Linked DNA regions of Homo sapiens: region 1 is linked to region 2. The links come from fine-mapping of genetic effects on gene expression. Tissue or cell type: thyroid. Region 2 holds a variant in brackets; the other region holds the start of a gene. All regions are shown on one strand. Distances are from middle to middle.

Region 1 (5,930 bases), 41 kb before region 2:
CTGGTCATAGACTGAGCCAGCCAGCATCAGCCTCCGATCTCCAGGCCCCTGCGGTGAGGGCCCCAATGCCCCTGATAAGGCTCTGCTCCTAAAGGGCTGTTGGCCTTGAACAAGCTGCTCTCCTGCCTCAGTTTCCACTTCAGGATGGAGACATGAATGAGAGAAGTGTCCCTGAAACTCCTGATGGCTTTCCATTTCCTGGTTTCCTGTCTTTCCTGAGGCTGAATTCTTCGCCTGCTTTCTCTGAGATCCCTCACTTTCCTGCCAAGAAATTTCCTCTTTAGTCTGTTCAGAGTGAAGTGCAAATCAAAATAAAAAAGTGCAAGTTCAAAGTGCAATCAAAACAAACAAACAAACTTTGGCTAAGGCAAAACCAAACCAAAACAAAACAACCCAACTATCTCTTTTAGTAGAGTTTTGACGCTGCAGCATGTGTTGAATAGAGCCCATGTGAGTTAGGCTGCCCAGGGCCTGAGTGACATTGCGTACTGTGGGGAGTGTGTGCTTTTGTTCAAGCGGTGGCTCTCAGGAAGCCAGGAGGAGATTTGGACAAAAGTTGGAAAGGTTGGAAGAATATGTAAGCTTGGACTGACATGGCTGATTGGGTTTGGGCCAGTTTGAGCTGGTTTTATCTGGTTGGATCCAATACAGTACGGACTCGGGAGGCCAAGGAAGGTCTTGGCAAGTTTGGACCAGTTTTTGCCATTTGAGCTGACTTGGGCTGGCTTGAGCTGGTTGCTCATCACAGTGGCAAAAAAGAAGAACCCTTGGGCAGGGGTGTTCAGGGTCAGGAGTGGAGGAAGGGAAGCTATGCTCATTGTTCGTGGCACTTGGTAGAGCTGTGCATCTTTACAAAAGCAATTTACAGTACAGGCACCCCTCATTTTCTTGCACTTGCTTTGTTGCACCTGCAGATATTTGTTGTGTTTTTGTTTTGTTTTGTTTTGTTTTACAAATTGAATATTTTGGCAAAAGTTTGTGGCAACCCCTTGTTGAGCAAGTGTACTGACACCTTTTTCCCTAAAGCATGTGCTCACTTTGTGTCTCTGTGTCATGTTTTGGTAATTTTTACAATATTTCAAACTCACTCTTTTCTTTCTTTTTTTCTGTCTCTCTTTCTTTCTTTTCCTTCCTTCCTTCCTCCTTTCTCCTTTCCTTTCCTTTCCTTTCCTTTCCTTTCCTTTCCTTTCCCTTTCGGGTCTAGCTTTGTTACCCAGGCTGCAGTATGGTGATGCAATCTTGGCTCACCCCAACCTCTGCCCAGGTTCAACTGATTCTCGTGTCTTTGCCTCCCAAGTAGCTGGGACAACAGGTGCAAGGCACCACGCCCAGGTAATTTTTTTTTTTTTTTTGTATTTTTATTAGAGATGGGGTTTCGCCATGTTGGCCAGGCTGGTCTCGAACTCCTGACCTCAAGCGATCTGCCCATTTCAGTCTCCCAAAGTGCTGGGATTACAGGTGTGCGCCACCACACCCAGCCCAAACTTTTTCATTTCTACTGTATCTGTTATGGTGATCTGTGATCACTCATGTTTGATGTTTCTATTGTAATTGTTTTGGGGTGCCACAAATTGCACCCATATAAGACAGAGAACTTAAGAAATATTGCATGTGTTCTAACTACTACATCAATCAGTGGTTCCTCTACTCCTCTCTCCTTCTCCTCAGGCCTCTCAATTCCCTGAGACCCAACAATATTAAAATTAGGCCAATGAATAACCCTAAAATGGTCTCTACATGTTTAAGTGAAAATGTCACACATCCCTTGCTCTAAATCAAAAGCTAGAAATATTAAACTTAGTGAGGTAAGTGTATTGAAAGCCAAAATAGGCCGAAAGGTAGGCCTCTTATACCTAACAGCGTAGTTGTGACTGCAAAGGAAAAGTTATCCTCAGCCTTTCATGTGTATTGGCTTATTCAGTCCTCATAACAACCCTACCAAGTAGCATGTGTTAGCCTCACCATTTGGCAGAGGAAAATGGAAGCACAGAAAGGTCAAGTACTTGCCCAGATCAGCAGCAGAACAGGCTCAAAGGTTGGCAGTCTGGTTGCAGAGTCCATGAACTTCACTACCACACTCCACAGCAGTTGTGAGACCATGGGCAAGCCATCTAAACTTTTGAACTTTAATATCTTCATCCATAAAATGGGGACGATAATACCCTGCCCCATTGCCCAGTGAGTGTGTACACCCTTAACTCGGTGCATAGGCTTGGGTTGGCTTGATCCGGTCTCATTCATTTCTCCCCACCTGACCCTACACTTGAGTCAGAGTATCTCATGTTGGCTGAGCTTGAAGTATGCAGGAGCACACCCCAGAAAGGCCAGGGCACAAGCCCTGCTTGGGGTGGAGCAGGGAGGGCCTGCTCTGCCCCACTGGGGTGTTCTTAGGTGGAAGTGGGTGTGGGATGGTCCCTCTGGGAGAACTCTCTCCCTCCAGCCTCCCTGCAGAGTCACCCAGGGAACTGAATCACAGCACAAGTGAAATGGGAAAAGTTCCCTTATCCCCCTCGCAGGGCCTGCAATGGGGGTGTGGCTCGCTTCTTTGGTACCCTGCTGCTCAAACCTCTAGGGGGAGCATGCAGATGGGCAGGTTGTGGGGCTTCAACCCCACGGCAGTGTCTAGGGGTGAATGCTTACAGTTCCTGAAGCCCCAATGGGTGTGTGTTACAGAGCGCTCTTTTAGTTTTGCTATCTGTAGGCAGCTTGTGTTAATCAGCTCGATTAGATCCTCTGCCTTATCACAAGGACAGAGGGCTTTCTGTATCCCAGGGTTTTTGCCTTGGTGTACTGGAGGAATCAGATCACACGTGGGCTTAGGGACCGAGTGCAAGTTTTTATTGAGTGGAAGTAGCTCTCAGCAGATGGGGGAGCCAGAAGGGAGATGGAGTGGGAAGGTGAACTATCAAGATAAAATCAGTCTACTACTCCATAACAGAGGTAAGGAAGAGTATGCATGGAATACAGGACATCCTTTAGAGCATCTCTTAGTATTACCATGCCCTTTGATTAAGGTCAATGGGAAACTACAATAGCGCAATCCAGGCAGGACTACAAATAGCCCAGACCCCTCAGGAATGAAGGTTTGGGTCACTCCACCAGGAAAAAAACCACAACCTGCTGAGGTGCTTGCTGAAGGCAAAGGGAATACAGAATGGGTAGTAGAAGAAGGTAATCATCAATACCACCTATGACCATGTGACCAGCTGCAGAAATGCGGACTGTAACTATCATGAGTATTTCCTCCTTCTTTGGCTAAAAACATGTTTGTGCATGTATACACTTGTACGAAGAAAATATATCCATTTTATTTCCTTTTCCTTTATCATGTGACATAAGATTTACTGACTTCATATCAACATTTAAGTATTATTAACTTTATGTAATAATATTTGGGTTGGGGATTGGTGGGTTTCCAGTTGTACCAAGGATAGTTGTATTATTTTAGGCATAATTATGACCTTATTATTGTCTTTATTTGAAGATTATGTATGATCTCAGGAGATGTGTATGGGTTCAGCTTGACAAGGGGTGGACTTACCATGGTTAATACTGAGTGTCAACTTGATTGGATTAAAGATGCAAAGTATTGATCCTGGGTGTGTCTGTGAGGGTGTTGCCAAAGAAGATTAACATTTGGGTCAGCGGGCTGGAGAAGGCAGACCCACCCTTAATCTGGTGGGCACCATCTAATCAGCTGCCAGCGAATATACAGCAGGAAGAAAAAGGTGAAAAGGCAAGACTGGCCTAGCCTCCCAGCCTACATCTTTCTCCCATGCTGGATGCTTCCTGCCCTTGAACATCAGACTCCAAGTTCTTCAGTTTTGAGACTTGGACTGGCTCTCCTTGCTCCTCAAGCTTGCAGACAGCCTATTGTGGGACCTTGTGATCATGTAAGTTAATACTTAATAAACTCCCTTATATATATATATATATCCTATTAGTTCTGTCCATCTAGAGAACCCTAACACAAGTGTTTTCTTCATTTTCCTTCATATTTATGAAGTGTGCTTTCTTGCCATCCTTTCCAGACTCATCACCTTATGTTATTAGTTGACTTTTTAAAAATCATTATTATTATTTGAGATGGAGTCTCGCTCTGTCACCCAGACTGGAGTGCAGTGGTGTGATCTTGGCTCACTGCAACCTCCATCTCCCCAGTTCAGCCGATTCTCGCGCCTTAGCCTCCTGAGTAGCTGGGACTGCAGGTGTGGGCCACCACGCCTGGCTAATTTTTGTGTTTTTAATAGAGATAGGGTTTCACCGTGTTGGCCAGGCTGGTCTCAAACTCCTGACTTCAAGTGATCTGGCTGCCTTAGCCTCCCAAATCGCTGGGATTACAGGCATGAGCCACTGTGCCCAGCCTCTAACTCTCTTTTAACATAAATTAATTCCTCTTCCTATATTTGTTCTCAGTGCTATTGACTTCCTGAAGAAACTGTGTCAATTCTCATGTAGAGTTTTTACACTAGGGATACAGTCACTTGCTTCTTTATACTTCATGGGATACCTTGTAAGTCTCCAGTGCATCACACCTGGAGGCATATGATGTCTGCTGGTCTTGCTTTTAATGATGCTAAGATCTATCTTTAGGTTCAGGCAATGGCAACCTTACCCTTCACTGAGAAGTTCTCCATCAACCTTTCACTGAGTGATTTTGGCATCCATTGAAAACCATTGCTTGAATCAGTTATTTTCTTAGGGGCTTAAAAAATGATAATTTTCTGATTCTAATTTTTTCTTCATGTAGTAGCTGAAATTCTTCTGCATAGAAGAGCTTTCCTTCATTCATTTTGGCTATTTAATTACCAGAAAATGCAGTTAGGCATAAAAAATGCTTAATTCTTTTCCTTTAATTAACAATTTTTAGAGTAATAAGTTGGTGCCCCAACTTCCCCAACGGTGCCCAGTAACTTTTATTTTCTTTCTGTATCTTCTTTTCTTCTCCTGCTCTTTTTCATCTGCTGGCTAGAAGTAGGGTACTTCAATACCCTAGGAGATGGCAAGACCTCATGAAGGAAGTTGCCTGGGTCCCTGAATGACTACATGGAGCTAATTCCTTCCTGTGACTTGGGGAAGAATGGGACTGTGATGGGAACAAGAAATGAGCTTTCTTAGTCACAACCCACTGAGATTGTGATGGTTTGTTACAGCATTGACCCTATCCTGACCAAACAGCTATTACATTTTTATTCTTTTTTATTTTTTTTTTAAATTCTTTTTGAGACAGAGTTTAGCTCTTGTTGCCCAGGCTGGAATGCAATGGTATGATATCGGCTCACTGCAACCTCCGCTTCCCAAGTTCAAGCAATTCTTCTGCCTCAGCCTCCCAAGTAGCTGAGATTTCAGGCGCCCCCCACCAGGCCCAACTAATTTTTTGTATTTTTAGTAGAGACCGGTTTCACCATGTTGTCCAGACTGGTCTTGAACTTCTGGCCTCAGGTGATCCACCTGCCTTGGCGTCCCAAAGTGTTGGGATTACAGGCGTGAGCCACTGCGCCTGGCCTACATTTTTAATTTCTAAGAGCTCTTTCTTGTTCTCTGATTGTTTCTTTTCCATAGCATAGTGTTCTTGTTTTATGCATATCTCTTCTGTTTCTGATGATGTTTAACTCTTAATGACACATTCTTCTGTTCTGTGCATTTTTTTCTGCCTCTCCTGACTTCCTTTTTATTGTTTGTGGGTTTTGCTCTCAATTTCAACTAAAACTAGTTTAACATTTATTTGGAGGAGGAACAACATTATGTGGAGGAAGGTTTAGAAAAAGGAAGGTTTCTTTTGACAGTCCTTGGCTTCTCTTTCCTGTCCTAAACAATTCAGCTGTGGTCCACATTTGCTCACCCTAATTACTAGCAAAGCAAGAGCCTAATATTTACCCAGACAGAATCTTCTAGGAAGGCAATCAACTCCCAGCCATTATGATTGAGGC
Region 2 (5,930 bases):
CCTTTGGAATTTGTTGAAACTTGCTTTATGGCCCAGCATAGGGTCAATTTTTGTAAATCATTCATATGAACTTGAAAATTATGTGTATTCTCCATATATATTCTATATGTGTCAATTGAGTTAAGTTGGCTAACCACTTTATTCAAATAATCCATTTCCTCACGGATTTTTTGTTTGAGTTTCTTTTAAAAAGTGTGTTAAACCAGCCTGGCCAACATGGTGAAACTCCGTCTCTATTAAAAATACAACAATTAGCTGGGCGTGGTGGTGGGCACCTGTAATCCCAGCTACTTGGGAGGCTGAGGCAGGAGAATCATTTGAACCCGGGAAACGGAGGTTGCAGTGAGCCAAGATCACACCACTGCCACTGCACTCCAGCCTGGGCGACAGGGCGAGACTCTGTCTCAAAAAAAAAATTTTGTTAAAATCTCCAGTGGTGGCTGCATATTTGTCTATTTTTCCTTTCAGTCTCAATAATTCTTACTTTGTATATTTTTAAGCTGTGTTATTTGGTGCACACAAGTTTAGAATTGTTATATTTTCCTGCTGGAAAAATCTGTTATCATTATTTAATGTCCATCTTACCTCTAGTAATACTGTTTGTCTTAAGCCTATTTTATTTGATATTAATGTAGTAATACCAACTTATTAAAAATTAGTATTTAAATGGTATATACTTTTTCATCTTTTTGTTTCACCTTTCTGTGTTTTTACATTAAAATTGTGTTGCTTAAAAATAAAATGTAATTGGGGTTTTAAACAAAAATCCATTCTAACAATATGTGTCTTTCTGTTTGTTTACATCATGTACATTTAATGTAATTACTGATATAGTTGGATTTAGAGCTACCATCTTTCTATTTGTTTTTCTGTCTTATTTGCTCTTTGTTCATTTATTCCTTCATTATTTTCTTCTTTTGGATAATCAAGTTGTTTTCACTATTTCAGTTTTTCCTCTATTAGGTTCTATTCATACGTTTTTACAAAAAGTTTTAACTTTAGATATTTAAATATGCATCTTTGACCTATTACAGATATATTGTCATATTAAATTAATGTTTCCCATGGTTTTAACAGTGCAAGAACTGGCCGGGTGTGGTGCCTCACACCTGTAATCCCAGCACTTTGGACTTTGGGAGGCTGAGGCAGGCATATCACTTGAGGTCAGGAGTTTGAGACCAGCCTGGCCCACAGGGTGAAACCCCGCCTCTACTAAAAATATGAAAATTAGCCGGAGGATGTGCTCATTTGAATCAAGGAGGAGGCAGTTGCAGTGAGCTGAGATCGTGCCACTGCACTCCAGCCTGGCTGACAATAAGACTGTGTCTCAAAAAAAAAAAGAAAGAAAGAAAAAGAAAACAATGCAAGAACTTTACAACTGTTCAACTCCATTTACCTGCCTTCCACCCTATGTGCTATTATTGTGTATTTTACTACCTGTTATAAGCCCTACAAGGCGTTCCTATTATTATTTTATTAGTTAATTATTTCATTTTTGTCCATATATTTGTCCTTTTTGGTGCCCTGTATTACTTCCAGAAGATTTGTGCTTAAAAAAAAGAAATTACTCCCCTCTTTTCTGACAATTTTTTTTTTTAAGTGACCAGGCTCTTGCTATGTTGTTTAGACTGGTCTTGAGTTCCTGGCCTCAAGCGATCCTCCGACCTCAGCCCTACAAGTAGCTGGGATTACAGGCGTGCGCCACCACGCCAGGCTTTGTAAAGTTTGTGCTTTCATCTGAGATCATTTTACTTCAGCATGAAGAAATTTCCTTTAATATTTCTTGTAACATTATTAAGGTTTGTTAGCAATGCACTTTCTCAGCCTTTTCTTTGTATATAAATGTCTTTGTTTTACCTTAATCCTTTTTTTTTTTTTTTTTTTTTTTTTTGAGATGGAGTCTCGCCCTGTTGCCCAGGCTGCTCTGCCTCCCGGGTTCACGCCATTCTCCTGCCTCAGCCTCCCGAGTAGCTGGGACTACAGGCACCCGCCACCACACCTGGCTATTTTTTTCTTTCTTTTTTTTTTTTTTTTTTTTTTTTTTGTATTTTTAGTACAGATGCGGTTTCACTGTGTTAGCCAGGATGGTCTCCGTCTCCTGACCTTGTGATCCGCCCGCCTCGGCCTCCCAAAGTGCTGGGATTACAGGCGTGAGCCACCGCACACGGCCTGTTTTACCTTAAATCTTACGCATTTTTTTTTCAGTATAGAATTCTAGGTTAGCAGGGTTTTTGTTTTTTTCTTTTTTCTGAACTTAAAAAATTACCTTTTGGATTCTATAGTGTCTGTTGAAATGTAGGCATCACGTAGCTTATCTAGCTGCTTTTAAGGTTTTCTCTTTGTCTTCGTTTCCAGCTGTTAACAATGATATGCTTGTGTGCTTTTCTTTTTTTTTTTTTTTTTTTTTTTTTTTTTTTTTTTTGAGACGGAGTCTCGCTCTGTCGCCCAGGCCGGACTGCGGACTGAAGTGGCGCAATCTCGGCTCACTGCAAGCTCCGCTTCCCGGGTTCACGCCATTCTCCTGCCTCAGCCTCCCGAGTAGCTGGGACTACAGGCGCCCGCCACCGCGCCC[A/G]GCTAATTTTTTGTATTTTTAGTAGAGACGGGGTTTCACCTTGTTAGCCAGGATGGTCTCGATCTCCTGACCTCATGATCCACCCGCCTCGGCCTCCCAAAGTGCTGGGATTACAGGCGTGAGCCACCGCGCCCGGCCGCTTGTGTGCTTTTCTTTGTTTTTATCCTACCTGGATTTACTAAGCTTCTTAAATTTAAGGGTTGATATATTTCAACAGTTTTGGGAAATTATCAGCCATATTACTTCAAATATTGCTTCTTCCTCAGTTTTTTCTTGCCTTCTGGAAGTACAGTTACACAAATGTTAGATCTACTAACTATGTCCCACAAATCTTACGCTCTGTTCCTTCTTCTATTTTTTTTTCTGTGTTTCTGGCTTGGATATTTTTTGTTGACCTGTCTTCGTTTGCTAACCCTGTCCTTTGTCCTTCTGCTAAACACATTCAATAAATTCTTAATTTCAGATGTTGTATTTTTCAGTCCTAGAACATTTTATTTTTGAAAGATATCCCACTTCCTCTGCTGACAATCTCTATTTTTATCTACTTTGCCAATCTTTTCATCTATTTTATTTAACATATTAATTGGTTATCTTACATTTTTTTGTCTGCTAACTCCAGTATGTGGGGCACTGTGGTTCCGATACTACTATCTATTTTTTCTCTTAACAGTCACATTTTTCTGTAGGTCTAGAAATTTCCAACACATGATATGGTTAAAACTGTAAATTATCCCAATATGGTGAGTGTGTAGTGATATCTTTTTGTGGTCTTAATTTGTACTCTGATTACTAGTGATGTTAAGCATCTTTTCATATGTTTATTCATAATTTGGTTTTCCTTTTTGTTAAATGCCTGTTCAAGTATTTTGTTCAACATTTGATTTGGTTATCTTTTTTCTCATTGATTTTCAGTTGTATATAAGTCGATATATCTTCCTGATGACTTGATCCATTTATTATTATTACTATTATTACAGTTTCTGGAAACAGGGTCTCACTCTGTTGTCCTGGCTGGAGTGTAGTAATGCGATCCATGGCTCACTGCAGCCTCCACTTCCTGGGCTCCAGTGATCCTCCTACTTCAGCCTCCCGAGTAGCTGGGGCTACAGGCATGCACCACCATGCCCAGTTAATTTTTGTATTTTTTGTAGAGATGCGATTTAGCCATGTTGCCCAGGCTGGTCTCGAACTCTTGGGCTCAAGGGATCTGCTCACCTTTGCCTCCCAAAGTGCTAGGATTCCAGGCATGAGCCACTGTGCTCAGCCCCATTTATTATTATACAGTGATCTTCTCTATTCCTAATAGTACTTCTCGCCTTAAAGTCCATTTTGTCTGATATTAATTTTTGTTGTTGTTGTTGTTGTTGTTTTTAGTAGATCTCACCCAAAAAAAAACTTCTGCTTTCTTCGACTAATTTGGAAATTACACTGTCTGTTTTACTCATTATCCAGTAACCTAGAAGTTATAATCTGAACATTTAACTTGTTCAAGTCTAGAGTTAATTGATACATTTACTCCAAGACAATGTAAAGAACTTACAACAGTTTAATTCCATTTTAACCACTATTATTAACGTTTTATACAATCGAGTTTCATTTAGATTTGCCATGTATTTGCCATTTGAATTCTCTTCATTCTTTCTAGCATTTTTGACCTTCAATTTGAGCTTTTTTTTCTTTCTACTCCAAGTCCATTGGTGACATACACTTACAGCTTTTGTTTGTCTGAAAATGTCTTTATTTCATATTCATTCTTAAAGGATGTTTTCACTGGGTATAGAATTCTTGGCCTGCAATTATTTTCTTTTTGCACATTGAAGATGATCTTTCTGCTATCCTCTGTCTTTTAATGTTGCTCTTGAGAAGTTAGCTCTCAGCTTACCTTGCTCTGTTGAAGATAATCTGACATTTTTTCCTGGCAGTTTTTAAGATATTCTCTTTGTCTTTGGTATTCTGCTATTTCACCACATATGTCTAGGTGCAAATTCTTTTTGAATTAATAGACTTCATTTTTTTTTAGAGCAGTTTTAGGTTCACAGCAAAATCAAGTAGAGAGTAGAGTTGGCCAGATGCAGTGGTCCATGCCTGTAATCCCAGCCAAGGCAGGAGGATCGCTTAATCCCAGAATTCGAGACCAGCCTAGGCAACATGGCAAACCCCATCTCTACAAAAAAATACAAAAATTAGTAGCCAGACCTGGTGGTGCACGTCTGTAGTCCCAGCTACTAGGAAGGCTATTAGAAGGATCATTTGAGCCTAGGAGGTCGAGGCTGCAGTGAGCTGTGATTGCACCATTGCACTCCATCCTGGGCGATGGAGTGAGACCCTGTCTCAAAATTAAAAAAAAGAAAAAAGAAAAAGAAAAAAAACCAAAGTACAGAGAGTTTCCACATGCCCCTCCCTCGTTTTCCACACACAGCCCCCCTTAACATCAACATCCTCCATGGGTGTTGTACATTTGTTACAATCAATAAACCAACATTATCGTTATCGACCAAAGTCCATAGTTTACATTAGGGTTCACTCTTTGTATTGTAAATTCTATGGGTTTTGACAAACTTATAATGAAATGTATATACTATTACAGCATCATACAAAATAGTTTCACTGTTCTAAAAATTTCCTGTTCTAATCTATTCATCCTCTCTCACCCCAAACCCCTGGCAGCCACTGATCTTTTTACTGTCTCCATGGCCTTGTCTTTTCCAGAATGTTACATAGTTGGAATCATACACTATGTAAGCTTTTCTAGGTGTAAATTAATTTTTTTTTTTTAGAGGAATCTCGCTCTGTCGCCAGGCTGGGGTGCAATGGTGCGATCTCAGCTCACTGCAACCTCCGCCTCCCGGGTTCAAGCGATTCTCCTGCCTCAGCCTCCCAAGTAGCTGGGTCTACAGGCATGCACCACCAAGCCTGGCTAATTTTTGTATTTTTACTAGAGACGGGTTTCACCATGTTGGCCAGGCTGGTTTTGATCTCCTGACCTCGTGATCTGCCCGCCTTGGCCTCCCAAAGTGCTGGGATTACAGGCGTGAGCCACCACACTCAGCAAATTAAAAAAAAATTTTATCTGGCCAGGCAAAGTGGCTCATGCCTGTAATCCCAGCACTTTGGAAGGCCAAGGCAGGTGGATAACCTGAGGTCAGGAGTTCAAGACCAGCCTGGCCAACATGGTGAAACCCCTTCTCTACAAAAATACAAAAATTAGCCGGGCATGATGGCGGATACCTGTAATCCCAGCTACTTGGGAGGCTGAGGCGGGAGAATCGCTTGAACCCAGGAGGTGGAGGTTGTAGTGAGTCGAGATCACGCCACTACACTCCAGCCTGGGCAACAGAGCGAGACTCCGTCTCAAAAA

Alleles and levels. Alleles are on the strand shown, and positions count from the first base shown. SD is a standard deviation of normalised expression in the study named.
For the expression in thyroid of the gene that starts at base 3,492 in region 1, A is the high allele of the variant in region 2 and G is the other (small effect, 0.22 SD a copy in GTEx).

Evidence for each region. PIP is the estimated chance that this variant, and not a neighbour inherited with it, causes the effect.
Region 1: it holds the start of LINC01226, and the variant in region 2 is the best candidate, but not a certain one, in a credible set for the expression of LINC01226 in thyroid (GTEx, PIP 0.81).

What each region holds. Positions count from the first base shown.
Region 1 is chr1:31,514,944-31,520,873 of GRCh38, forward strand. LINC01226 (long intergenic non-protein coding RNA 1226) reads left to right here and starts at 3,492. Exons shown (of 3, transcript NR_027085.1): 1 at 3,492-3,893.
Region 2 is chr1:31,555,555-31,561,484 of GRCh38, forward strand. The region is part of intron 2 of LOC124903917 (a long non-coding RNA gene); the gene reads left to right. Among named protein-coding and RNA genes, the nearest start is that of TINAGL1, 18 kb to the right of the region's middle. The variant A/G (reference allele first, on the strand shown) is at 2,573.